Linked DNA regions of Homo sapiens. Each later gene encodes a partner of the first gene's protein in a complex. Each region holds a gene or a part of one and is shown on either strand. Other genes may lie near its edges. The genes, in order: TFDP2, RBL2, LIN52 and LIN9.

What was found.
Region 2: TFDP2 (region 1) and RBL2 share a complex: the UniProt entries of both Homo sapiens proteins name them as parts of the DREAM complex.
Region 3: TFDP2 (region 1) and LIN52 share a complex: the UniProt entries of both Homo sapiens proteins name them as parts of the DREAM complex.
Region 4: TFDP2 (region 1) and LIN9 share a complex: the UniProt entries of both Homo sapiens proteins name them as parts of the DREAM complex.

What each region holds. Positions count from the first base shown.
Region 1 is NC_000003.12:142,139,518-142,146,550, reverse strand, and holds part of TFDP2 (transcription factor Dp-2), read left to right. Parts: intron 1-7,033. UniProt on the Homo sapiens protein: Can stimulate E2F-dependent transcription.
Region 2 is NC_000016.10:53,486,449-53,492,159, reverse strand, and holds the end of RBL2 (retinoblastoma-like protein 2), read right to left. Parts: intron 2,031-5,711; coding exon 1,860-2,030; 3' UTR 512-1,859; downstream 1-511. UniProt on the Homo sapiens protein: Key regulator of entry into cell division. Directly involved in heterochromatin formation by maintaining overall chromatin structure and, in particular, that of constitutive heterochromatin by stabilizing histone methylation.
Region 3 is NC_000014.9:74,094,929-74,101,961, reverse strand, and holds part of LIN52 (protein lin-52 homolog), read right to left. Parts: intron 6,015-7,033; coding exon 5,977-6,014; intron 5,300-5,976; exon of another isoform or gene 5,243-5,299; intron 4,169-5,242; coding exon 4,102-4,168; intron 1,818-4,101; exon of another isoform or gene 1,755-1,817; intron 808-1,754; coding exon 724-807; intron 1-723.
Region 4 is NC_000001.11:226,285,137-226,292,169, forward strand, and holds part of LIN9 (protein lin-9 homolog), read right to left. Parts: intron 2,662-7,033; coding exon 2,528-2,661; intron 1,323-2,527; coding exon 1,197-1,322; intron 1-1,196. UniProt on the Homo sapiens protein: Acts as a tumor suppressor. Inhibits DNA synthesis. Its ability to inhibit oncogenic transformation is mediated through its association with RB1. Plays a role in the expression of genes required for the G1/S transition.

The DNA.
Region 1 (7,033 bases):
GGGGCTAACCTTCCTGTGTTTAGATCCTAGCTCTGCAGTTTATCAGCTGGGTAACCCTGAGTAAGTTATGTAAACACTCTGGGCCTAAGTCTCCTCATCTCTAATATGGGGTTAATAATAGTGTCTATCTTACACAATTCTGAAGATAATTAATATATATATATAAGTCATTTAGAATGGGTTGTGGCATCCCAGTACTATGTATGTATGATACCTATTTTACTATTGGTTTCCTTGTCAACTAAAATTGTTGAATTATTTTGTTCATGCTCTCTCTGTTCTTAAAGTCATACTCTCTCAATTCTTTAATAGAATATTTTTTGGTAGGACTTTACATGTATCTATATTTTTATTTTGTAAGATTGCTTCTAGTCTGTTGACATTAAAAAAATCCTGATTTGGTCATCCAATAAATATCAAATCTATGCATTTGATAAACATACAAGTTTGATAATTTTGGCATTGCTTTCATGCAAATTTTTCACTAAAATGCTGTCTAGGCAGGGCTGAGGTCAGAGTTCTTTACCTGCTAAAGACCTCTCTTAAAGGTGATAAAAAATTTTATTATTAATTCTTTGGTTCAGGTTGGTCACCCAATTAGAAATTCAGCTAATTTTAATCATCATCTACCTCATATGTTTCCAAGTTCTCATAAGGAATATGTGAGGAACTTTGACAGTTGCCTTACTAAAACCCAGATTTTATATGCTTCGTTTTCTTTACCCTATCATTACTTGTCCTTAGTGAAACTATACTATATTCCAGTAGCATATGTTAATTACTACTTTTTTGTCTTTTTTTTCGGAAAAGGATTATTTATTTATTTATTTATTTATTTAGAGACAGAGTCTCTCTCTGTCACCCAGGCTGGAGTGCAGTGGCCTCCTGGATTCAAGCAATTCTCCTTCTCCAGCCTCCCGAGTTGCTGGGTCTGCAGGCGCTTGCCACCATACCCGGCTGATTTTTGTATGAGAAAAGGATTTTTTAATTCAAGTAAAAATGTGGAATGCTTTAAGAATTTGTGTGTCATCATTGCACAGGGGCCATGCTAATCTCTGATTTGTTCCCGTTTAGTATATGTGCTACTAAGGGAGCACTGATTACTACTTTTTCTAAGTGTTCACAAACTTCTCTTAGTAATGATGCTAGAATCATGTCTAAAATTACATCTAACTTCAGTGATCAATAGTTGGCAGGATCCCATTTCTCTTTTTTTGAACACGAGTACTACATTTTTCTGTCTTTAGTCTTCTGGCAACCTCTCCTGCTCACCATAGTTCCTAAATGATTGCCAACAGCTGTGTGGAATTTTATTTGGAGCAATATACCTTGTTGAAGGTTTACTTAGAGTAGTTAGGAACTGTCTTTTATCTTCATGTTCATATTGAGCTTTCATTTCCTCCAGTTCATTGATAAATTTATTAAATGCCCATTTTGCACAAGATATCAATGCTTGTTTTACTTGAGCCATCGGAAGAGAATTTTTCTTAATAAAAATGCCTGAAGCAAAAAGGTAATGTACATCTATTTCTCTCCATTCCTCCTATTGTTAATATTACCGTAGTCTGCCACCATTCCTTCTTTAGTGTACTGCAGTAATAGCTTCCTGTTAACCTTCCTTCTTCCAGTCCTTTTCTGTCTCTGGTCCTTATGTATGGCAGCCAAAGTTATCTTTGTTTTAAAAATGCATGTATGTTTTAAAAGTCGTTTCTGGGAGGTGCAGTGACTCACGCCTATAATCCCAGTGCTTTGGGAGGCCGAGGTGGGCGGATTGCTGAGCCCAGGAGCTCAAGACCAGCCTGGGCAACATGGTGAAACCTGTCTCTACTAAAAATACAAAAAGTAGTCAGGCTTGGTGGCATGTGCCTATAGTCCCAGGTACTCAGGAGGCTGAGGTGGGAGGATCTCTTGAGCCCAGGAAGTCAAGGCTGCATTGAGCTGTGATCGTGCCACTGCACTCCAGCCTGGGCAACAGAGTGAGACCCTATCTCTAAATAAATAAATAAATAAATAGGAATAAATAAATAACTAAGTATTTTCTTTCCTAGTGGCATAAGCTGTAATCTAATTAGAATTTGATTTCTGAGCATAGTACTTTCCAACTCCCTTTTTCTGTTTCCTCTTTACTGTCCTTTTAAATTCAAACCCCTCCACCCCTGCTGCCCCGCTTTTTTTTTTTTTGAGACAGAGCCTTGCTCTATTGCCCAGGCTGGCAGTGGTGCAATCTCGGCTCACTGCAACCTCCACCTCCTGGGTTCAAGTGATTCTTGTGCCTCAACCTCCCAAGTAGCTGGGATTATAGGCATGTGCCACCACACCTGGCTAATTTTTGTATTTTTAATAGAGACAGGGTTTTGCCATTTTGGCCAGGATGGTCTTGAACTCCTAACCTCAAGCAATCCACCTCTCTTGGCCTCCCAAAGTGCTGGGATTACAGATGTGAGCCATCGTGCCTGGCCATAGATCTCATTCTTTTTTATGGCCAAATAGTACTTCATTGTATGTATGTACCACATTTTCTTTATTCATTCATCTGTTAACGAACACTTAGGTTGCTTCCAAATCTTAGCTATTGTAAACAGTGCTGCAACAAACATAGGAATGCAGATATCTCTTCAATATACTGATTTCCTTTCTTTTGGCTATATACCCAGCAGTGGGATTGCTGGATCATATGGTAGCTCAATTTTTAGTGTTTTGAGGAACGTCCAAATTGTTCTCTGTAGTGGTTGTACTAATTTACGTTCCCATCAACAGTTTGAGAAGGTTCCCTTCTCTGCACATCCCCACCAGTATTTGTTACTGTCTGTCTTTTGGATATAAGCCATTTTAACTGGGGTGAAATGATAGCTCATTGTAGTTTTGATATGCATTTCTTCGATGATCAGCAATGTTGAGCACCTTTTCGAATGACTATTTGCCATTTGTATGTCTTCTATTGAGAAATGTCTATTCAGATCTTTTGCTCATTTTTTAATGGGATTATTTGATTTTTTTCCTAGAGTTGCTTGAGCTCTTTATATATTCTGGTTATAAATCTCTTGTCAGATAGGTAGTTTGCAAATGTTTTCTCCCATTCTTTGGGTTGTCTCTTCACTTTGTTGATTGTATCCTTTGCTGTGCAGAAACTTTTTACTTGATGTGATCCCATTTGTTTATTTTTGCTTTGGTTGCCTGTGCTTGTGGGGTACTGCTCAAGAAATTCTTGCCCAGACCAATGTCCTGGAGATTTTCCCCAATATTTTCTTCTAGTAGTTTCACAGTTTAAGGTCTTAGATTTAAGTCTTTAATCCATTTTGATTTGATTTTTTTTTTTAGACAGGGTCTTGCTCTGTTGCCCAGGCTGGAGTGCAGTGGCTTGATACCAGCTCACTGCAACCTCAGCCTCCCAGGTTCAAGCAGTTCTTGTGCCTCAGCCACCCAAGTAGCTGGGACTACAGGCATGTGCCACCATGCCTGGCTAATTTTTGTATTTTTAGTAGAGATGGGGTTTCACCATGTTGGCCAGACTGGTCTTGAACTCCTGACCTCAAGTGATCTGCTCGCCTTGGCCTCCCAAAGTGCTGGGATTACAGGCGTGAGCCACCTTGCCCAGGCTGATTTGATTTTTGTGTATGGCAAGTGATATGGGTCTGGTTTTTTTCTTCTGCATTTGCATATCCAGTTTTCCCAGCACCATCTATTGAAGAGACTGTCTTTTCCCCAGTGTGTGTTCTTGGCATCTTTGTGGAAAATGAGTTAACTGTAGGTGTGTGGATTTGTTTCTGGATTCTCTGTTCTGTCCATTGGTCTGTGTGTCTGTTTTTATTCCAGTCCCATGCTGTTTTGGTTACTATAGCTCTGTAGTATAATTGAAGTCAGGTAATGTGATTCCTCCAGTTTTGTTCTTTTTGCTCAAGATAGCTTTGGCTATTCTGGGTCTTTTGTGGTTCCATATAAATCTTAGGATGGTTTTTTCTATTTCTGTGAAGCATGTCATTGCCATTTTGATAGGGATTGCCTTGAATCTGTAGATTGCTTTGATAGCAGTATTGACATTTTAACAATATTGATTCTTTCAATCCATGAACATGGAATATTTTTCCATTTTTTTGGTGTCCTCTTCAATTTCTTTGATCAGTGTTTTATAGTTTTCATTACAGAGATCTTTCACTTCTTTGGTTATTACCTAGTTATTCAATTTTATGTGTGGCTGTTGTAAATGGAGTTACTTTTAAAATTTCTTTTTCACATTGTTCACTGTTGGCATATGGAAATGCTACTGATTTTTGTATGTTGATTTTGTATCATGTAACTTTACTGAATTTGTTTATCACTTCTATTAATAATACTTTTCTTGTGGAGTCTTTAGGTTTTTCCAAATATAAAATTGCATCATCTGCAAACAGGGATAATTTGACTTCTTCCTTTCCAATTTGGGTGCCCTTTATATCTTTCTGTTGTCTGATTGCTCTAGATAGGACTTCCAGTACTTTGTTGAATAACAGTAGTGACAGTGGGCATGCTTGTCATGTTTCAGATCTTTGAGGAAAGGCTTTCTAGTTTTTCCCCATTCAGTATGATACTAGCTGTGGGTCTGTCATATATGGCTTTTATTATGTTGGGGTGTGTTCCTTCTATCCCCAGTTTTTTGAGTATCTTAACTTCTTTGCAACATAAATATTTTATTTAAGACCTATATGTCCTTTTGCAACATATTTCATGCTCTTTTGACTTTTTTTTTTTCTTGAGACAGAGTCTTGCTCTGTCACCCAGGCTGGAGTGCAGTGGCATGATATCGGCTCACTGCAACCTCCGACTCCCGGGTTCAAGTGATTCTTGTGCCTCAGCCTCCCAAGTAGCTGGGATAACAGGTATGTGCCACCATGCCTGGCTAATATTTGTATTTTTAATAGAGACAGGGTTTTGCCATGTTAGCCAGGCTAGTCTTGAACTCCTGGCCTCAACTGATCTGCTGCCTCAGCCTCCCAAAGTGCTGGATTACAAACTTAACCCACCACACCTGGCCTATGTTCTTTTGACTTTAAAAGAAATTAAATAGATCTTCGTTCAAGATGGCCGAATAGGAACAGCTCCAGTCTGCAGCTCCCAGCGTGATTGATGCAGAAGATGGGTGATTTCTGCATTTCCAACTGAGGTACCTGGTTCATCTCATTGGGACTGGTTGGACCGTGGGTGCAGCCCACAGAGGGTGAGCCGAAGCAGGGAAGGGCGTCACTTCACCCAGGAAGCACAAGGGATCAGAAGATTTCCCTTTCCTAGTCAAGGGAAGCCGTGACAGACTGTACCTGGAAAAATGGGACGCTCTCGTCCAAATACTGGACTTTCCCCATGGTCTTAGCAACTGGCAGACCAGGAGATTCTCTCCCGTGCCTGGCTTGGCGGGCCCCACATCCGTGGAGCCTTGCTCACTGCTAGCGAAGTAGTCTGAGATGGACCTGTGAGGCTGCAGCCGGGTTGGGGGAGGGGTGTCCGCCATTGCTGAGGCTTGAGTAGGTAAACAAAGCGGCCAGGAAGCTCAAACTGGGCGGAGCCTACCTCAGCTCAGCAAGGCCTACTGCCTCTATAGACTCCACCTCTGTGGGCAGGGCATAGCAGAACAAAAGGCAGCAGAAACTTCTGCAGACTTAAACATCTCTGACAGCAGTGGTTCTCCCAGCATGGTGTTTGAGCTCTGAGAATGGACAGTCAGCCTCCTCAAGGGGTCCCTGACACCCGTGTAGCCTAACTGGGAGACACCTCCCAGTAGGGGGCGACAGACACCTCATACAGGTGGGTGCCCCCCTGGGACGAAGCTTCCAGAGGAAGGATCAGGCAGCAATAATTGCTGTTCTGAAATATTTGCTGTTCTGCAGCCTCTGCTGCTGATACCCAGGCAAACGGGGTCTGGAGTGGACCTCCAGCAAACTCCAACAGACCTGCAGCTGAAGGACCTGACTGTTAGAAGGAAAACTAACAAACAGAAAGGAATAGCATCAACATCAACAAAAAGGACATCCACACCAAAACCCCATCTGTAGGTCACCAACATCAAAGACCAAAGGTAGATAAAACCACAAAGATGGGGAGAAACCAGAGCAGAAAAGCTGAGAATTCTAAAAACCAGAGTGCCTCTTCTCCTCCAAAGGATTGCAGCTCCTCGTCAGCAACGGCATAAAGCTGGACGGAGAATGACTTTGATGAGTTGACAGAAGCAGGCTTCAGAAGGTTGGTAATAACAAACTTCTCTGAGCTAAAGAAGCATGTTCTAACCCATCGCAAGGAAGCTAAAAACCTTGAAAAAAGGTTATGGCTAACTAGAATAAACAGTGTAGAGGAGACCTTAAATGACCTGATGGAGCTGAAAACCATGGCATGAGAACTTCGTGAGGCATGCACAAGCTTCAAAGGCCGATTTGATCAAGTGGAAGAAAGGATATCAGTGATTAAAGATCAAATTAATGAAATAAAGCGAGAAGACAAGTTTAGCGAAAAAAGAGTAAAAAGAAATGAACAAAGCCTCCAGGAAATATGGGACTATGTGAAAAGACCAAATCTGTGTTTGATTGGTGTACCTGAAAGTGACGGGGACAATGGAACCAAGTTGGAAAACACTCTTCAGGGTATTATCCAGGAGAACTTCCCCAACCTAGCAAGGTAGGCCAACATTGAAATTCAGGAAATACAGAGAACACCACAAAGATACTCCTGAGAAGAGCAACCCCAAGATACATAACTGTCAGATTCACCAACGTTGAAATGAAAGAAAAAGTGTTAAGGACAGCCAGAGAGAAACATCAGGTTACCCAAAAAGGGAAGCCCATCAGACTAACAGCGGATCTCTCGGCAGAAACCCTACAAGCCAGAAGAGAGTGGGGGCCATTATTCAACATTCTTAAAGAAAATAATTTTCAACCCAGAATCTCATATCCAGCCAAACTAAGCTTCATAAGTGAAGGAGAAATAAAATCCTTTATAGACAGACAAATGCTGAGAGATTTTTTCACCACCAGGCCTGCCTTACAAGAACTCCTGAAGGAAGTGCTAAACGTAG
Region 2 (5,711 bases), on another chromosome or scaffold:
AAGTAAGTATTTTTCTGAATATAATGCTAAAGGTAAGTTGCATTCATTTAAACTAATAGAGCAGACAGAATTCAGCACTACTTAATAGTTTATAAATCAGTGGTTTCAGTTGTATATATGTTAGGAAATGGAGAGGTATAGAGAGAGCAGGTTCCATAGCTCAGCACTTTTAAGTGGAAGATCATTTGAATCTCAGTCTTCAGCCTGCACTGATTTGTAGCCTGCACTGTCTTACTGATTTACAAACTGAAATCACTGAGAAATGTCTTTAGTTCAGTGAGAAGAAACCAGAACACTTGTTCCTAGTGTTGTGTTGTTTTTTTTAAGCAAATTACTTACTGTATTTTTATGGCAGGAGGGAGAAAAAGTGTTACAACGGTTTCTAATGAAGTCCGGTATTTAAATGATAAATGACTAATGTGTTTAGTAGAGACAAAATAAACCAATAAATGATTGTTCTTTGCCATTTATGCAGGAAACTACCCTTTTCTCAATATAACCAAACAAAGGCTAATTTATAAATGCTTTATTGAAAAATACACTTATCTTCATATAAAATTACAGTAGCAGTATCTTGAGAAGTTTTATAAATATTTTTGCAGAACACTATTCTAATTGAACAATGTAAGTTCCATATTTCTCTCAGCAATATGAAGTTACCTAGTAACTTTGTTTATACTGATTCAATTTACAATTGAATTTTCTCCCTAATAAGATTATTAATTTGACTTGAAAACTGCTGGAACAATAGTGATTAATAAAGATATGTATAGATAATTCAGCTGTTAAATAACATTTTCTAATTTGTATAAATGGTACTATGGTACTAATAAAAACCTAAATTCTCCAACCAATTTTTTTAAACTGCCAGGAACACCCAAAAATATTTTTAAATATATCACCTTAATAGACATTTCTTTTAGATAACTCCCTCCTAAAGGAAGAGGTCATAAGTTTTCATATTAATCCCCTCAATTCAACTTGATTAAAATCTTTTCTTAGCTGGTTGATCCCTATATAACAAAAAACTGGAGAATTTAAAACATTCCCAAAAGGTGGCTATAGGGGTTTTAACATTTTAAAAAAATATAAAAGCATTAAAGAAAATATTGGATGTTTAGCCTGGAAGTTTTGTATTTAATAAAGTTCACATTGTAGAAAGTGCTATCACAAATATACAGCAAAATCTGGGTTACAAAATCATGCATTTTACAGCCCTAAAGTGCCTCCACTTATACAGGTTCACTCAGACATTGCACACCCGAACAATCAAGGACTTTTCACACTGCACCACACCGAATGGGGAGAGGGAAGATGTGCACAAAGGGAACGGGAGACGAGGGCTAATGACCTAGGACCTCCAAACCTGGGTGTGCTCTCCTTTGTCAGGAATGCAAAAAATCACACACTCCTACCAGGTGTTTTAGGACAAAATACCTAATTTTTGTTTTGCTTTTTATGAGGACTACAGCTGACCACAAAACAGGTAGGATTGAACTTGAAACACAGTTCTTCTGTTGGAGTACGTCAACAGAAGCCTCCTATGCTCACGTTTGGGTACACATCATTTTCTTGCAGTATTTCTAAAAGCTTTGCCAGAGTCAAAAATCCAAGTTTGGATTCTAAGCAGCCTTGACAGTAATCACTGAATGGTAGGGAAAAAAAGACAGTTGGGATGAATTAAAATGTTCTAAGGACACTGGAAGGAGTTAAGTCCCATTTCTCACCAAAATGTCCCCTCATGTTACTAACAGGCTGTAACTCATCAGCTGGATTAAGGAAAAAAGCTCCATAATCTAGATGCATTAAAGGCTGCTGCTAAACAGATTTTGTGAAGAGTTTAATACAAGAGACTAACCTCAGTGGGAACCACGGTCATTAGCTACATCTTGGAGACGGCGTAATAAGGCAGAATGATTTTCTGGGCAAATTCTTTTTGCAGGTGATTCACTTCCATCTTCCAAAAGAATTCCTCTCTTTTTAGTAGGAGTTTCTCCTGTGCGTATCATACTATTAATTTCTCTCAGTCTCTATGGTGGGAAAAAGATACAAAAATTTTAAAATGCAAATGCACATAGCTCAGTATTAAGTCAAAGAATCTCAAATGAGTTAAGCAGTTTACCCTGGAAGAGTTTGAACACATCTACAGAGAAAAGAAACACTAAGTTACATAACCTGCCAACTTTACTTTTCAGCTGGCTGAGGCCGATGGCTATTTGAGAAGGGGCTGAGTAGTTCTATTTTTAACAAGCTCTTCCACAGGCACTTTTGACCTGTAGGTCAATTATACATGTCTATAATTTGTGAGTTCACAAATTTGTGATTTTTTTTACAATTAGGGAGCATTACATTGCTATCTGATAGTCACTTAGACACATCTTTTTCTCTTTTTTAAAGTACAACTTTATACAATATTCCCTTTTTTTCAGTCTAATGTTACTCAGTTTTTAGCAGCCATTCTCAACTGGGATTTCACTAGAAAAGTAGGCCTTAATCCCCCCCTAAGGTATCCATTGTAGCTAATAAATTAGTAAGATCTAGAATGGTACTATCCTTGGGAGAATTGAGGATTAAAGTTACTCAAATTATTTTCTGGACAGTGGCTCAGATGAGGAGCTGCAATTGAGAAAGACACTGCCAGAATGTCAGAAAGACTGGGGCTGGCTGTACAGCACCTTTAGCATTCAGTTTCTCCAAAGCCTCTAAAAGTCGTCTGTCACATTATTTTCTGCTAGTTTGTTGGTTAAAATTCTTTTTCATGTGCTGCTTCATCCATGTTTGCTTACAGAAAGCATACTAAGCAAATTCACAGATATCTATTATAGGAAATTGTAAACATACAAAAGTAGAGAAGCATAATGCATCCTCACATACCTATTCCTCTACTTCAGCATGTTTGGCCAGCCTTGTTTGATTTATACTCTGATTCACTTCCATTCCCCAGATTATTTTAAAACAAATCCCAGACATATTTTATCATGACACTTGTTATTTTTATTCTTTAAAGTAATAAATGTTTTGGGGGTTTTAATGAAAATCAGTGTTCTTTATTATCAACAGATGTACCTTCACAAGTGTTTTTCATTTTTTTTTTTTTTTTAATTAACAATAGAAATGGGGTTGCACTATGTTGTCCAAGCTGGTCTTGAATTCCTGGGCTCAAGCAATCCTCCTGCTTTGGCCTCCTAATGTGCTGGGAACAGGCATGAGCCACTGCACCTGGCCACAAAATCTTAAGCATCTGAAGAAAGCTTTCCTTCAATTCTTTTTCTAGCCCCCTTTCTGCCTTCCTAAGAGTCTGGTCTGCATTTGCTATCTCTGCAGTCTCCCATTTGCTTGAATATTTCTTACACTGTTTACTGTATACATTGTTAATTGTGTATAAGCAATGCTACCATAATTTATTTTTCAACAAGTCATACCAGTGCACTGACACTGCTCTGTCAAGTATCACTAATGATCAGTCTTCATCTTAACTGATCTTGTATAGTATTTGATAATTATTTTCTCATAGTAGTCTAAATGTTAGTACGTTATAGATTGGTTCTAGACATAAGCTACTTCTTGCTTTGTAATATTCTCCCCCTTCTTGCTTTGTAATATTCTCCCCGTAAGTTTCAGCTATCACCTATTACGTCAAGATGACAAATCTTTCTCCAACCAAGAGTCTAATAATCGCTATCATTTTACTGGACAGACTCCCAATTCTGTGCTAGAAATACCTACAGTCGGATAAAACTGTTCCTCTGAAAAAATCCCTCATACTCCCTTGTCAGCCTATCCCAAACCACCACTGATGTTCTTGTCCAATAGTTTTGCCTTTTCCACAATGTCACAGAAATGGAATCATAAGTAGCCTACTGAATCCAGTGTCTTTCACTTAAGCATTGATGCATTTGAGATTTATCTACATTGAATATATCAGTTCCTTTTTATTGCAAAGTAGCAGTCGATTGTCTGGATGCACCACAGCTTATTTATATGCATTCACCAGCTGAAGGACGTTTGGGTTGTTTCCCACTTTTTGGCAATTAGGAAGAAAGTCACTATAAACAGTCATGTACGTGATTTTGTCTAAACATAAGTTTCCATTTCATTTGTGTAAATACCTAGGAATGAGATTGCTGGTTGTATAATGGTATGTTTAAGAAACAACTTTCCACAGTGGCGATGCCATTTTGCGTTCACACCAGCAATATGTAAAATTGTTCCACATTGTTGTCAGAACTTACGATTTGTCACTTTTTGGATTTTAGCCATTCTAACAGGCATGTAATGGGTGAAGTGTGTTCAAATCTTTTGCCCACTTTTACATTTGGTGGTTTTCCTACTGAATTTTGAGAATTCTTTAGATACTGTAGATATACAAATGCTTCATCAGATATGGAACGTGTACAGATTTTCTAATAGTCTATGGCTGGTTTTTTAATTCTCTTAACAGTGTCTCAAATAGCAGAAATTATTCATTTTGATAAAATCCATTTTAACAGTATTTTACGGATTGTGCTTTTGATGTTGTATATAAAATTTTCCCATAAAACATGTTCACTAAGATTTTCTGTTGTCTTCTAGAGGTTTTGTAGTTTGAGATTTTACATTTATGTCTGTGGTTCATTTTTAGTTTTTGTATATAGTGCAGGGTATGGGAACAAGTTTACTATTATTTTGTTATATGCACATCCAATTGTTCCAGCACCATCTGTTGAAAAGGCTATCCTTTCTCTACCAAATTGCCTTTGCACCTTTGTTGAAAATCAGTTTACCATACATGTGTTGTCTATTTCAGGACTCTGTTCTGTTCTATTGATCTCTGTGTCTATACTTCCACCAACACTACTGTCTTGATTACTGTGGTGTTATAATACAGATATTTTGTGTACCTTCATAATTAGTGTGAATCCTCCACCTTTGAATTATTTTAGCTATTCGAGTTCTTTGCCTTGTAAATGACAAATTTTAGAATCAGTTTTTTACATAAATCTGTTTGGATTTTGACTGAAATTGGTTTGAAATTATAGATCAATTGGGAGAAAACTGCTGTTTTATTTTCCATGAATTGGAAACTAAGGTATTATTTTCATTCAATGTCATGAACACATTTCTGTATCTTCTCAGGCTTTAATTTCTCTCACCAAGCTTCTATAGTTTTCAGGATATATGTGTTGCATAGTTTTTATCATACCTACCCCTAAGTAATTTTAAAATGTTATGGTATTCAATTTTTTATTTTACTTCTGATTGTTCACTGCTAGCATATAGAAATACATTTGATTTTTGTATGTTGATCACATAACCTCCCTTATTAGTTCCAGTAGCTTTTTGTGGATTCTTTGTGATTTTCCTATGTAGACAATCCAGGCTGTATGGCTTTTCTTGTCTTATTGCACATGCTAGGACTCCCAGTTACAATGTTGAACAGGGGTAGTGAGAGTGGACATTGTTGCCTTGTTCTTGATCACAGGGGCAAGGCATTCAGTCTATCACCATTAAGTATGATATCTGTAGATGCTTTTGGTAAATGTTTACCAAGCTGAGGAAGTTCCTTGAGAGTTTTTACATTAATGAATGTTGGATTTTGTCAGATGCTTTCCTTCAAACACTAAGATCATTTATCACCTTCACTTTTTGGGAGAGTTTCTATAGAATTGGCATTATTTCTTCCTTAAATGTTTGGTAGCATTTACCAATGAAGCCATCTGGGCCTACAGTTT
Region 3 (7,033 bases), on another chromosome or scaffold:
CTCTACAAAAAAAATTTTTTAATTACCCAGGCACGGTGGTACATGCTTGTAGTCCCAGCTACTTCAGAGGCTAAGGTGGGAGGATCACTTGAGCCCAGGAGTTGAAGATCAGCCTGGGCAACATAGTAAGACTCTGTCTATTTAAAAATGAGATAATAACCTGAAGGGATTTCAATATACTTTTACTGTATAAAGAAAAATCGGCCGGGCGCGGTGGCTCACGCCTGTAATCCCAGCACTTTGGGAGGCCGAGGCGGGCGGATCACGAGGTCAGGAGATCGAGACCATCCCGGCTAAAACGGTGAAACCCCGTCTCTACTAAAAATACAAAAAAAATCAGCCGGGCGTAGTGGCGGGCGCCTGTAGTCCCAGCTACTTGGGAGGCTGAGGCAGGAGAATGGCGTGAACCCGGGAGGCGGAGCTTGCAGTGAGCCGAGATCCCGCCACTGCACTCCAGCCTGGGCGACAGAGCGAGACTCCGTCTCAAAAAAAAAAAAAAAAGAAAAATCATTTGTTACCTAGTAAATCCAGTAATTATTCCACCACACTCCACCATAAAAAGTCAATGAATTAGATTGACTTCTTACCTTCAGAATGCTTCTCTTTTCCCTAATATACTTTCTGAATTATAACTGGAGCTCAGGGTGGAATACCTGAGCTCAGGGTGGAATACACAGCTCAGGGTGGAATACACCCCTGAACAAATGCGATCGGGGTACTCACACTCATCCAGCCCCAGCTGATAGGCTAGGTTCTGTAGGCCTCGAACCTTCTCCATCAAATTAGCCGTGGTGAGACTCCCCAGTTCTGAAACAGAATCATTTATTTCAACATCATTTCTTTCCACTCTTCTCTAGTAGCAACTTCCTTGGGTTGGGAACTCTTGTTATACAAGTTTTCAAGCTTAATTACCACTGAATAAGTAGAAAATGGATCCGTAACTCCTCCCCCAATCTTAAACACACACAAATCAGGGAATTTTCCCACTATTGCAAAATTCCTCAGATAAGCTTACCCACTTAATAAGAAAAGAACTAGCATAAAAACAGAATTAGCTGGGCATGGTAGCACATGCCTTCAGTCCCAGCTACTTGGGAGGCTATGGCAAGAGGATCACTTGAGCCCAGGAGTTCAAGACCAGCCTGGGCAATGATACCTCACCTGTATAAAAATAATGCAAAAATTCAGCCAGGCATGGTGGCTCATGCCTGTAATCCTAGCACTTTGGGAGGCCAAGGCGGGCAGATCACCCGAGGTCAGGGGTTTGAGACCAGCCTGGCCAACCTGGCGAAACCCTGTCTCTACTAAAAATAGAACGATTAGCTGGGTGTGGTGGCAGGCGCCTGTAGTCCCAGCTACTCAGAAGGCTGAAACAGGAGAATCACTTGAACCTAGGAGGCAAAGGTTGCAGACAGCTGAGATTGTACCACTGCACTCCAGCCTAGGCAACAAAGTGAGATTCCTTCTCAAAAAAAAAATATAAATAAAATAAAATTAGCTGGGTATGGTGGTGTATGCCTGTAGTCCCAGCTACTCAGGAGGCTGGGATGGGAGGATCACCAGGAGGTCAAGGCTGTAGTGAGCCATGATGGCACCACTGCACTACAGTCTGGGTGACAGAGTGAGACCTTTTCTCAAATAAAAAAAGAAAAAAATAATAAAGTAACAAATTAAGTGATTCATCCTCAGGAAACATTATTTATAACATTTGTTTGGAATACATCATTAAAATGTAAAACCTTGTCTTTTGATAGCATTAAGAAAGCCTTGAAGACAGATCTGATCTGACAAAATGGACACTGTCTCCACTGTTAATTGTAAGTCCACATTATTTCGACTTATAATAAAGTGGCAACAAAACACTTACTATTCCCCATTTCCCTAAGTTTAGAAAACAAAGACTAAATAAAAATCTAAACTTTCCCTTCAAATCAAATTCCTATAAAAATCTTTAAGTTTACTAAGTAAAAAGACAGCATACTGTTGGAGGTTAGGAGCAAATGGAGTTGGTTAGGTCAGATCTCTTTCACCATCACAGTTACAATTCTGCAATGGCAGTTTCACTGTTGGGTGTTTCTGTGCTTGAGATATTTTGCAGGCCTTGCATTTGATGGATCAGTTGGTACCACCCAGATCAATAAACTGGTTCATCTGATCTTGTGGCCCCCACCCAGGAACTGACTCAGTGCAAGAGGACAGCTTTGACTCCCTGTGATTTCATCTCCAGCCCAATCAATCAGCACTAGCAACTCACTGTCCCCCCAACCCACCAAATTATCCTTAAAAACTCTGATCCCCAAATTCTCGGGGAGACTGAGTAATAAAAAAAACTCCAGTCTCTTGCACACACATACACACACACACACACACACACAAAGACAATACTTAAAAATGTTCTTTCCTGAATTTTTATTTAAATAGCACCCAATTCCTTTTAGGTTTAAGACACAGGTCAGTTTGCATAGAATATAATGCTATGATCCCTCACTAAAAATTTAAAGTTGCCTTAAGAAATACATGCTGATGAGATATTATATAAATGTCTGTTTGAAACATTAGAAGAATGAACCTGAGATGCCCTTGAGACTTAATTTTTCCATGGCAGGAGGAGGGAATCTGCATTTAAGCATTTCATAAAGAACAATGAATTACTTCTAAAATCAAATAAAGGTGTTTTTTTTTAATCTCATTTATCATGCCACAGTCATTATCTACACCTAGCATAAGTAGACTTTCTTGATATGTTCAGCTGTTTAAATACCTCAAGAATCCCAGGTTTTTACCTTAATTTCAGTCTATTACTTCACAATCATCATGAATCTTATCACCAGAAGGATGATAAAATAAATAAAGTAGGGCAAAATCATGGAAAATTAATGTTTTTTAATTTAAATTTCCACTTTGTGATTGAGTTTCAAATCATTTATCAAACAACAATATTCACTACTTATAGTATTCTTTATAGAAGAAATTGATGGGATAAAAAAATAAAAAATAGGTCTTAACCCACTAAGAGGTTGTCATTTAATAGTACTGACAATATATGGCAGTAAATTCTAAATAAGGCACTTGTGTTATAATGGAAAGAGGCTAGACTTAAAAAAGCAGAGTTTACGCGGGGCGTGGTGGCTCACGCCTGTAATCCCAGCACTCTGGGAGGCCGAGGTGGGTGGATCACTGGAGGTCAGGAGTTTGAGACCAGCCTGGCCAACATGGTGAAACCCCATCTCTACTAAAACTACAAAAATTAGCTGGACGTGGTGGGGGATGCCTGTAATTCCAGCTACTCGGGAGGCTGAGGCAGGAGAATCGCTTGAACCCAGGAGGCGGAGGTTGCAGTGAGCCGAGATCGCACCACTGCACTCCAGCCTGGGCAACAAAAGCGAGACTCCGTCTGAAAAAAAAAAAAAACCAGAGTTAAAATTTTTTAACTTTTTTTTTTTTTTGAGATAGAGTCCTGCTCTGTCAGCCAGGCTGGAGTGCAGTGGAACTATTGTTCGCCACAACCTCTGTCTTCTAGGTTCAAGTGATTCTCCTGACTCAGCCTCCAGAGTAGCTGGGATTACAGGAGCTTGCCACCATGCCTGGTTGATTTTTGTATTTTTAGTAGAGACGTGGTTTCGTTATATTGGTCAGTCTGGTCTCAAACTCCTGACCTCCAGTGATCCACCCACCTCGGCCTCCCAAAATGCTAAGATTACAGACATGAGCCACGCCTAGCCAAATTTTAACTCATTCTATCTTGGTTAACTTATGAACTTTGAATATCATCATACCCAACTCACAGGACCTTTATGGGAATTAAATGAAAAAATTTATGTTAGAGCTATTCGTTAACTGTATTATACAAAATCAGGTTCACATTAGAAGAATTTAGCACCAGCAGCAGAATTCACTATGACTGAGTCTTGAATTGGCAGGATTTCTACACATGGAAAAGGTAGAGAAGGGCATTGCAGACATGAAAAACTACAAATAAGGAGGTTTAAATGAGAAGTCTGAAGCCAAAAATACTTGTAAGGAAACAGAAAAAAAAAATAGAGAGGTGGTCTATGGAAAAACATAAATATCCAGTTAAAAGTGGTAACTAGCATCACTTACCTTTCAACATGTCGATGTCATCACGTTCTATCTCAGCCATCCATTTGGGTGGAGAACTAGTAATAGGCTGTCAAAAAATAATATATCCATTCAGACACATAAAAAGTGTGAGGAGACCCTATTATTCTTATAAGAAGTGTAGCCTGGGCCGGATGCGGTGGCTGCCAAGGTGGGCGGATTACTTGAGGTCAGGAGTCAGGAGTTCGAGACCCGCCTGGCCAACATGGGGAAACCCCATCTCTACTAAAAATACAAAAAAAATTAGCCAGGCGTGATGGCACACACCTGTAATCTCAGCTACTTGGGAGGGTGAGGCACGAGAATTGCTTGAACCTCTTGAATGTGGGAGGCAGAGGTTGCAGTGAACCAAGATTGTGCCACTGTACTCCAGCCTGGGTAAGAGTATTACTCTGTCTCAAAAAAAAAAAAAAAAAAGAAAAAGAAAAAATGCAGCTTGTCACATAGCCTTCAGGTTGTTTGGAAATACTGGCAGATTATAATTTCAAAAACCTGGATTTCTCCAGGTTTAGATATGGCCTACAAATAGTCACTGCAAAAAACATGGCTCATCTTGAAAGTCAGTCTCAGAGAAATCACTGTGGAAGAATAGGTATGACCACTATTACTGATTTATGCCTAACAAGTTAGTATAGCAATGAATGAAATTACTTGAAATTCAGTTCTGGTGAAAGCCTCCAATTCAACTGTTTGAAACACTAATCAGTAAGTAACATTCTCTGGCATACGGGAGATTCAAAGAAGAATCAAGAATGAGAAAATCATCATTTTAAGTGAGAGAAGTCTGGAATGGTCATCACTTGGAATTTCACAATTTTATTGTAGAGGTTTTAGGAAACTTCAGAATTTTACAATTTTTCATTTATGAAAGTGAACTTAAAACTATGAAAGAAAGCCCATTCTTAGAATAGCTCTGGGTTGGCAGTTTAATGCTAGTTGCACACGAGAATCACCTGTGTAACTTTTAAAACTATAAATGCCTTGGCCACACTCCAGACATAATGATTTAGAATATGAGGGGTAGGGAAGGGTCCAGTGGAAAAAGTAGAGCAAGGGACTCCTCATATGTGCTTTTCTTTTTTTATATTTAATTAATTTTTTTCTTGGTGCTCATTTGTTACAGTGCATTTTTCAAGAGCTCCATAGCTGCATGTTGATGATTCTGTCATGCACAAAAGGTAGGGTTGAGAAACATTATTTCAGCTTTGCGTCTTTCTCTTTTTTTAATTAAAATGTACTCAGAACCTATTATGTGACAAGCAAAACACTTTACATGCATCAAGTCATTTACCTCCAAATCAACTCTATAAAGTAGGTATTTTTTTCACATTAAAAAAAACAAAAAAACAAAAACACATACATTGGCTCACACCTGTAATCCTAATGCTATGGGAGGCTGGAGCAGGAGGATCACTTGAACCCAGGAGTTCAAGACCAGCCTGGGAAATATAGTGAGACCTCTTCTCCACAAAAAATTTTAAAAGGCCAGGCGCGGTGGCTCACACCTGTAATCCCAGCACTTTGGGAGGCTGAGGTAGGTGGATCACTTGAGGTCAGGAGTTTGAGACCAGCCTGACCAAGATGGTGAACCCCGTCTCTACTAAAAATACAAAAATTAGCTGGGCGTGGTGGTGGGCACCTGTAATCCCAGCTACTCAGGAGGCTGAGGCAGGAGAATCGCTTGAACTTGGTAAGTGGAAGTTGCAGTGAGCCGAGATCGTACCACTGCACTCCAGCCTGGGCGAAGAGTGAGACTCTGCCATAAATAAAATAAAATAAAATAAAGAACAGAGATCTGAGCTTTTACTCAGGAGCGAAACTTTGGATTGACCTCAGTAGGTAAGGGATATTACTTACACTTTTGAAGGAAGCTGCAAATTCAGCAACACCTGGTACTAAAAAGAAAAACAAAACTTTATTTATTCAATAAGTATGATTGCTCAGGCATAGAAGATCCAAATAATAAGAAAACAGCTTTGTCTGTTTTCTTATAGTTTAGAAGAAGAGAAAGAATAAACCAATAACTATAACACTGTTTCAGTCCTCAAAGAAAGATGCCAGGACTATGGCAAGACAAAAAATGGCAAGCTAAGTCAGACCCAGGGGGCATAAAAAGCTTCTCAAGGAAAATAATGCCTCAACTGAACTTGGAAGGACCAGGAGTTAGCTGGTTGGGAGGGTGGTAAGATACAATATCTCTTACCAGAAAGTTTAAACTGCCTTTTTAGAGATGCTGTTCTGTCAATCCAATTTTATTTATTTAAATTTCTCACAGAAAGAATCACATTAAAATGCAGAAAAATAAAAATCAGGGCTGGGCATTTTGAGAAGTCAAGGCAGGAGGATCCCTTGAAGATCAGCCTGGGCAACAGGGCAAGACCCCAGACTCTACAAAAAATTAAAAAACGGGCCGGGTGCAGTGGCTCATGCCTGTAGTCCCAGCACTTTGGGAGGCTGAAGCGGGTGAATCACTCGAGCTCAGGAGTTGGAGACCAGCCTGGGCAATATAGTGAAACCCCGTCTCTACAAAAAATACAAAATTTAGCCAGGCGTAGTGATGTGCCCCTGTAGTCCTAGCTACTTGGAAGGCTTGAGCCCGGGAAGTTGAGGCTGAAATGAGCCATGATCACACCACTGCACTCCAAACTGGGCAACAGAGGAAGACCCTGTCTCAAAAAAAAAAAAAAAAAAAACAGTTAGTTGGGCATGGTAATGCACACCTATAGTCCTAGCTACTTAGGAGGCTGAGGCAGGAGGATGGCTTGAACTCAGGAGTTGGAGGCTGCAGTAAGCTATCATCGTGACATTGCACTTTAGCCTGGGTGATAGGATGAGCCTCTGTCTCTAAAAAAAATATATAATTAAAATAACATCTTTGCCTGAGCTCAGGAGTTGGAGACCAGCCTGGGCAACA
Region 4 (7,033 bases), on another chromosome or scaffold:
GACACTCAAACTACAGAACTATGACAAAACAGTAAATAGTGACCAATATCCCACTCTGATGGACAATAATTAGAAACAGTGTAACTCAATTTGCTCAAACACGCAAAATGATAGCAAAAAGTCACCAAATGGCTACTGTAATTACCAAAGGCCATAAATTATGAGTATGAAACACACTAAATAACATATCAAATTTTAATTTTGTTATTATAAGAAATATTAAAAACATCATCATCAAGGTCATCTTGATGACAGTTTAATTAAAAGTTCTCTCTGTATTTCATCACCATCTAAAGAAATCATTAAATCTAAATTCCATTTCTATTTGTCCAAATCACTTTATATTTACAGACCTTCCTTGAACTTTCCCACCATTTAAAATGAAAAAGTCTTGCACATACTTTTTACCAGGCAGATAGACATAATGTGAGAACTAATGATCTAATTATTCTTCTAACATATTTCCAATTTTCACTCAAAAGTAATATAAGGTTTTCCAATGTGTTACCAGGATAACACTGGAAAAGAAAAAATCATTTCACATGAAGAGCAATTCTCAGGAAGTAACATATTAGATAGATTAATTTGTTTTCTACTTTTATATAAAATAAAATAGGCACTTCTGGGAAGGCTCCTGAGATTATAAAGGATTTCACAAAAGATAACAAAAATGTACACAGAACTTTACAGCATCCTTAAATACTTTTTAGGACATTCTTAAATATTTTTTGGAACACAGAGGGACATAGATAATGTAAAACTAAAAAATTACGTTGAAAACCTGTGATCCTAACAAAAATGAAATTGTGCATTTAATTATAAGATGCATACGTATAAACAGCACCTACATTAAAGTTGGTTAACAGGATATATTTAACATATAATCAATTATTCTGAAAAGTTATGTTTTGGTACTAGTCATTTTAAAGATTAAAAAAATCAATGTACTAATGATACTAACAACTATTATTTATTGATTTTATTTTTTAATTCTTTTTTAGAGGAATGGTCTCACTGTGTTGCCCAGGCTAGAGTGCAGTGACTATTCACAGGTGTAATCACAGCATACTACAGCCCTGAACCCCTGGCCTTAAGCAAATACCCCATCTTAGCCTTCCAAGTAACTGGGATTATAAGTACATGCACTGCTACTGGCTTGATTTTATTTTAAACAAAAACAAAAACATTATTTTTACCTCCGTGGTTTTCCCATAAGCCGCCGAATTTTTCCCCATTCTACTCTTGTTAACTTTCTTGTTTTCAAATTAGGAAAAGATTCCTTTAGACATACACAGAAGTCATTATCACCTTCAAAAAGTGGTCTGTAAAACAGATATAGTATTTTAATGGTTACATACAATGTGTTACTTTCTTAAAACACATAAAATCACAAAATGCTAAACTTTCACTTCTACCCCATATATATATATAAACTGGCACAAATTCAAAGTGCTAAAACTAAATCCTTGGCATTTGTGAAACATCTAATGTCGTGTAAAAGTTGCTCAGGAAATATTATTTGTGTTGTGATTCCAAGAGACACTGATTTTTGTTCAATCTCTTATACAGGTATATCCTTTGGGAGGCTATCGTGGCCCTGGCCTTGTATCAGGTGAAGATAAACCAAGTTAGCTACAAAGTATCTTTGTCCCAAAGGAATACCATCACCAAGGAGTCCTCTTTGGAATTAAACCAGTCTTGGGACACTGGAGGACTCCAGAGGGTTAGATTAGCTTGGGGGATCCCAGAAGAACTCAGATTACACTGAGACACCCTGAAAACTCTCTTAAGCCTATGGACAAAAATAAAACAATTCTATTCATGAGTCTGGGAAACCAGGAACCAGTGTTGGCAATGATACATAAATGCCTTGGGCTCAAATATGAACATTCATGAGATTCACAAGCTCCAGAGTAGGCAATTGGTATAGAAAACAGAGAAGGGAAGAAAATATAAATATCCAGCAGAGCAAGCAGCAATGACTGGCATATGAGGAAGGATTATAAATAAGAACTTTTCCTCAGTAAATTCCATTGTTGAATAATTGTATTTCAGCCAAATCTCATACTACGTCATACTTAAGCATATGTGTATACCTAGCGTGCTTAAGTACCACATCCAAACTAGAAAGACTACCCTCTTAAAAATCTTAAGCCATTTTTACCATTAGTAATGGTTTCTCTATGATTATACCAGCACTTAACATCTCAATTATAAAATGAATCTCATTCACTGCAAATAATGGTGTTTTAAGGTATCTCTACTCCATAGTCTTTAAGAATTCTAACACAGAAATTATACCGTAATCAATTCTTCACAAAAATGTACAGTTTTCTTCCCCAAAAAGGATAACAGGGAAGAAAACTATGACAAATAGAATAGATCCAACTGGAATGTGGAACAGAAAAATGAATTTAGAGAAAAATAAGATCAAAGTAGACCTATAGAAAATGTTGTAGCTTAAAACACTTGAAAAACTTAAATTTCTGATTCAAGTAATATTCATAATATAAGCCATGATACATACTTATCTATATTTGAATAGAACCACTCGTATATACACCATTTATGTGCTTTAGGAAGCTTGAGCAGATTACGTAATCGAAAACCAATCTTCTGTGAAGCTTTCTTATCTGGTGTTGACATTGTTGCTGTAAATTTCTATACAATAAAAAAAAGAGATTAATTTATGGCTCCATTAAGTAAAAATGAACATTTATAACCCTGAATAAATTTGCAAAAGGTAAATTATGTTTAAGTACTTAAAAAGGTTCACTGATTCACTGATATTCAACATGGAATTTTGTTGCTGTTTTAAACACTCCGATTATTTTTGATTATTGCCTTTTTTTTTTTTGACAGTCTTGCTCTGTTGCCCAGGCTGGAATGCAGTGGCACAATCTCGGCTCACTGCAACCTCTGCCTCCCGGGTTCAAGCTACTCTCTTGTCTCAACCTCCCAAGTAGCTGGGACTACAGGCGCACGCCACCACACCCAGCTAATTTTTGTATTTTTAGTAGAGATGGGGTTTCACCATGTTGGCCAGGCTGGTCTCAAACTCCTGACCTCAGGTAATCTGCCTGCCTCAGCCTCCCAAAGTGCTGGGATTACTGGTGTGAGCCACAGCGCCCAGCTTAGATGGATACTTTTTTAACCTAATAAAACATTTCTCCCCACTCCAACCCAAAAACCAGTATCGTAATATTAAAAGACGATGAGAACGACAAATATTTCAACTACCACCACTAACCTAGTATGACAAAGATTTCAACTACCACCACTATTTCATAACACTGTTTTGAAGGAATTGGCCAATCAGGTAAGAAGAATAAAATTTAGAAAGAAGATAAAACTACCATTTCCTTGTAGGTGAAAACTCAAGAAAATCAACTGTAACAATTAAAAACAGTAAGAAAATTTAATGAAATGGGTAAATACAAAGTTGATATACAAAAACCATGATTCAAAAAAATCACTATATGTAAATAATAACTGGACAGGCCATAAGAGTTTATATCCTGTTTATAACAGCACAAAAATGGACATAAACAAAAAAATTAAATATGTAGGAATATACTTACGAAACATGCAAGACTGATATGGAAAAAAATTAAGTCTACTGTGAAATACTATGAACTAAGTGGAACTACAATCAGTTCTTAGGTAGTCTCAATGTTACCTATATATATCATTTCCCATAAATTATAATATTAGTCCAATCCCAGTCAAAATGCCAACAGGATTTTTTTTTCCTAGTCAAGTTGATTCTAAAGTCTACATGGAAAAATAAATGCACAAAAATATTTAGGAAAAAATCTTATGCTGGGCGCAGTGGCTCACGCCTGTAATCCCAGCACTTTGGGAGACCGAGATGGGCGGATCACAAGGTCAGGAGCTCCAGACAGCCAGGCCAATATAGTGAAACCCCATCTCTACTAAAAATACAAAAATTAGCCGGGCGTGGTGGCTGTGCCTGTAGTGCCAGCTACTCAGGAGGCTGAGGCAGAAGACTAGCTTGAACCTGGGAGGCGGAGGTTGCAGTGAGCAGAGATCACACCACTGCACTCCAGCCTGGGCGACAGAGTGAGACTCCATGTCAAAAAAAAAGAAAGAAAAGGAAAAAAATCTCAAAAAAAGAATATGTGATAATATCTTACCAGGCATTAAAACACAGTATAAAGTCATGTTAAACCAATTTTGTGTGTGTGTGTGTGTGTGTGTTTTGGTTTTGTTTGTTCTTTTGAGACAGGGTCTCTCTCTCTGTCACTTAGGCTGAAGTGCAGTGGTGCAAACATTGCTCACTACAGCCTTGACCTCCTGGGCTCAAGCCATCCTCCCACCTGAACCTCCCAAGTAGCTGGGACTGCAGGCATGTGCCACCACACTGGGCTAATTCATGCATTTTTTGTGGAGACGGGCTCTCGCTATGTTACCAGGTTGGTCCCAAACTCCTGGGCTCAAGCGATCTTCCTGCCTCAGCCTCCCAAAGAGCTAGGATTACAGGTATGAGCTGCCATGCCCAGCCAAAATAATTTGATACTAGCACATATAGAGATATGCTAGATGTAGAGATAGAAAGCCTGAAAGTAATCCCAAATACTTATACGAATTTAGCTTTGATGAAGGCAGCATTTTAAATCAATGTTTAAAAAGATGGATTACCCAATAAATGTTACTAGGACAACTAAGTAGTCCTCCGGGGGGGGGGGTGGGGGGGGGTGGGAAAGCTAGGTTGCAATTTTACTTCATCCCTTACTGCAAAATAAATTCCAGATGTACTGAAGGTTCAAACCAAAAAAATGAAATATGAGAGAATTCTAAAATGATAAATTTTAGTGTAGAAAAGGTCTTTCTGAGCATGACAAACTCAAGAAGTCATTAAAAGGTAACAAAGTTACATTTGATCCTTAAAATATTTTAAAATCCCATATGTTAAAAAATACAGAAACAAATCAAAAGACAAACTATAAACTCTAAAAAAAATTACAGCCATTATAAACATCCAAAGGGCCAATATTTTTAATATATACAAAATTCTTATAAACTAGTAACACAATGACCCACAATCCAATAGAAAAATGGGAAAAAGGCATAAACAGTTTACAGAAAAGGAAAGAAATAATTTTTAAACATATGAAAAGTGTCTCAACTTTGCTCTTATATAAAATGCCAACTAAAACAAGTGAGAGGCTATTTCTTTTTTTTTTTTTTTTCTTTTTTTTGAGATGGAGTCTCGCTCTGTTGCCCAGGCTGGAGTGCAGTGGCACGATCTCGGCTCACTGCAAGCTCCACCTCCCGGGTTCACGCCATTCTCCTGTCTCAGCCTCCCGAGTAGCTGGGACTACAGGCGCCCGCCACCACGCCCGGCTAATTTTTTGTATTTTTTGTAGAGACGGGGTTTCACCGTGTTAGCCAGGGTGGTCTTGATCTCCTGACCTCGTGATCCGCCCACCTCGGCCTCCCAAAGTGCTGGGATTACAGGCGTAAGCCACCGCACCCGGCCAAGGCTATTTCTATATATCAGATTAGCAAAAATCTAGATGGTTGGTTCTGTACTGAGTTGGAGGCATTTGGAAAATAGGAACTCTAATATATATAAACCAGTACAATTTCTTTCCTTTTTTTAAAAAAATTTTTTAACACAGCGTCTTGCTCTGTCACCTAGGCTGCAGCATACTGACACGATCGCGGCTCACTGCAGCCTTCGCCTCCCAGGTTCAACCTATTCTCATGCCTCAGCCTCCCGAGTAGCTGGGACTACAGGCACGTGCCGCCACACCTGGCTAATTTTTCTATTTTTAGTAGAGATGGGGTTTTGCCATGTTGGCCAGGCTGGTCTTGAACTCCTGACCTCAGGTGATCTGCCCACCTCGGCCTCCCAAAGTGCTGCTATTACAGGTGTGAGCCACTGTGCATGGTCCCAGTTCAATTTATTCGGAGAGTATTTGGTACTGCTTTAAAAACTTTAAATGTACATAATTTACGATCCAGCAATTCCACATCTTAGGCATCTGTCCTAGAAAAAAACTTGCAAATTTATACAAACATGCTCAGGATGTTCACTGCAGCATTATTTGTCAAAGTAAAAATTTACGAACAATTTAAATGCTCCCAAATGGGAGAATTTATAAATAATGATATAAAATTGAATACTATTCAATAGTAAAAAGAAATGAAACACTGAATCCGATTATCTCAATCAATCAACATGGCCAGATCTCAAAAAAAGACAGTGAAAAAATTACAGAATGACACATGGCACAATACCATGAAAATGATACTACAAATGTAATTTTTAGAATACATACATTTAGAAAAAGAAAAAATATATATACATTTAACAATATTAAATATTTTCTATGAATACATTAAAAGTATATTTAAAAGGTTTCATAAGGATAATCAAACTAATTATAGTGGCTGCCACTGTATGAGGGAAGTACATATTGGAATGGTAAGTTAGGGTCAAAATTTTAAAATTTTTATTATAAACTTTGTATTTTGGAAAAGTTGTAGATTTACAGGCAAGTTGCAAAGATAGTACATATTCCCACATGCCCTTCACCTGGCTTTCCCTAACATCAATATCTTATAGTAACTTTGGTATATTTGTCAAAACTAGTGCAATACTATTAACTAAACTACAGGCTTTATTTGGATTTTACCAGTTTTTTCACCAACATCCTTTTTCTGTTCCAGAAACCAATTCAGGATACCACACTGCATTTAGAAAAATAACTTTGTTTTTCTTTGTTTTCCCTCAGTGACCATTCTCAGGAGAAAAAAAAAAATTAAATGTAAAAAGAAGAAAAAAGAAAAAATTTATAAGTGAGGAGATGTTTAGCATAAATAACCAAATTACTATAAAATATTCTTATCACAAAAAGTGTTATTTCTTTCTACTACATTATTGACCCAGATTTTTAAATAGGGTATATAGGGTATTAGCAGCTCATCGAATATAAAACTATATTAAGGACCCGCCTGTTGGGTATGGGAAAATAGATTCAAATTGTTAGAGGGAATCTTCTAT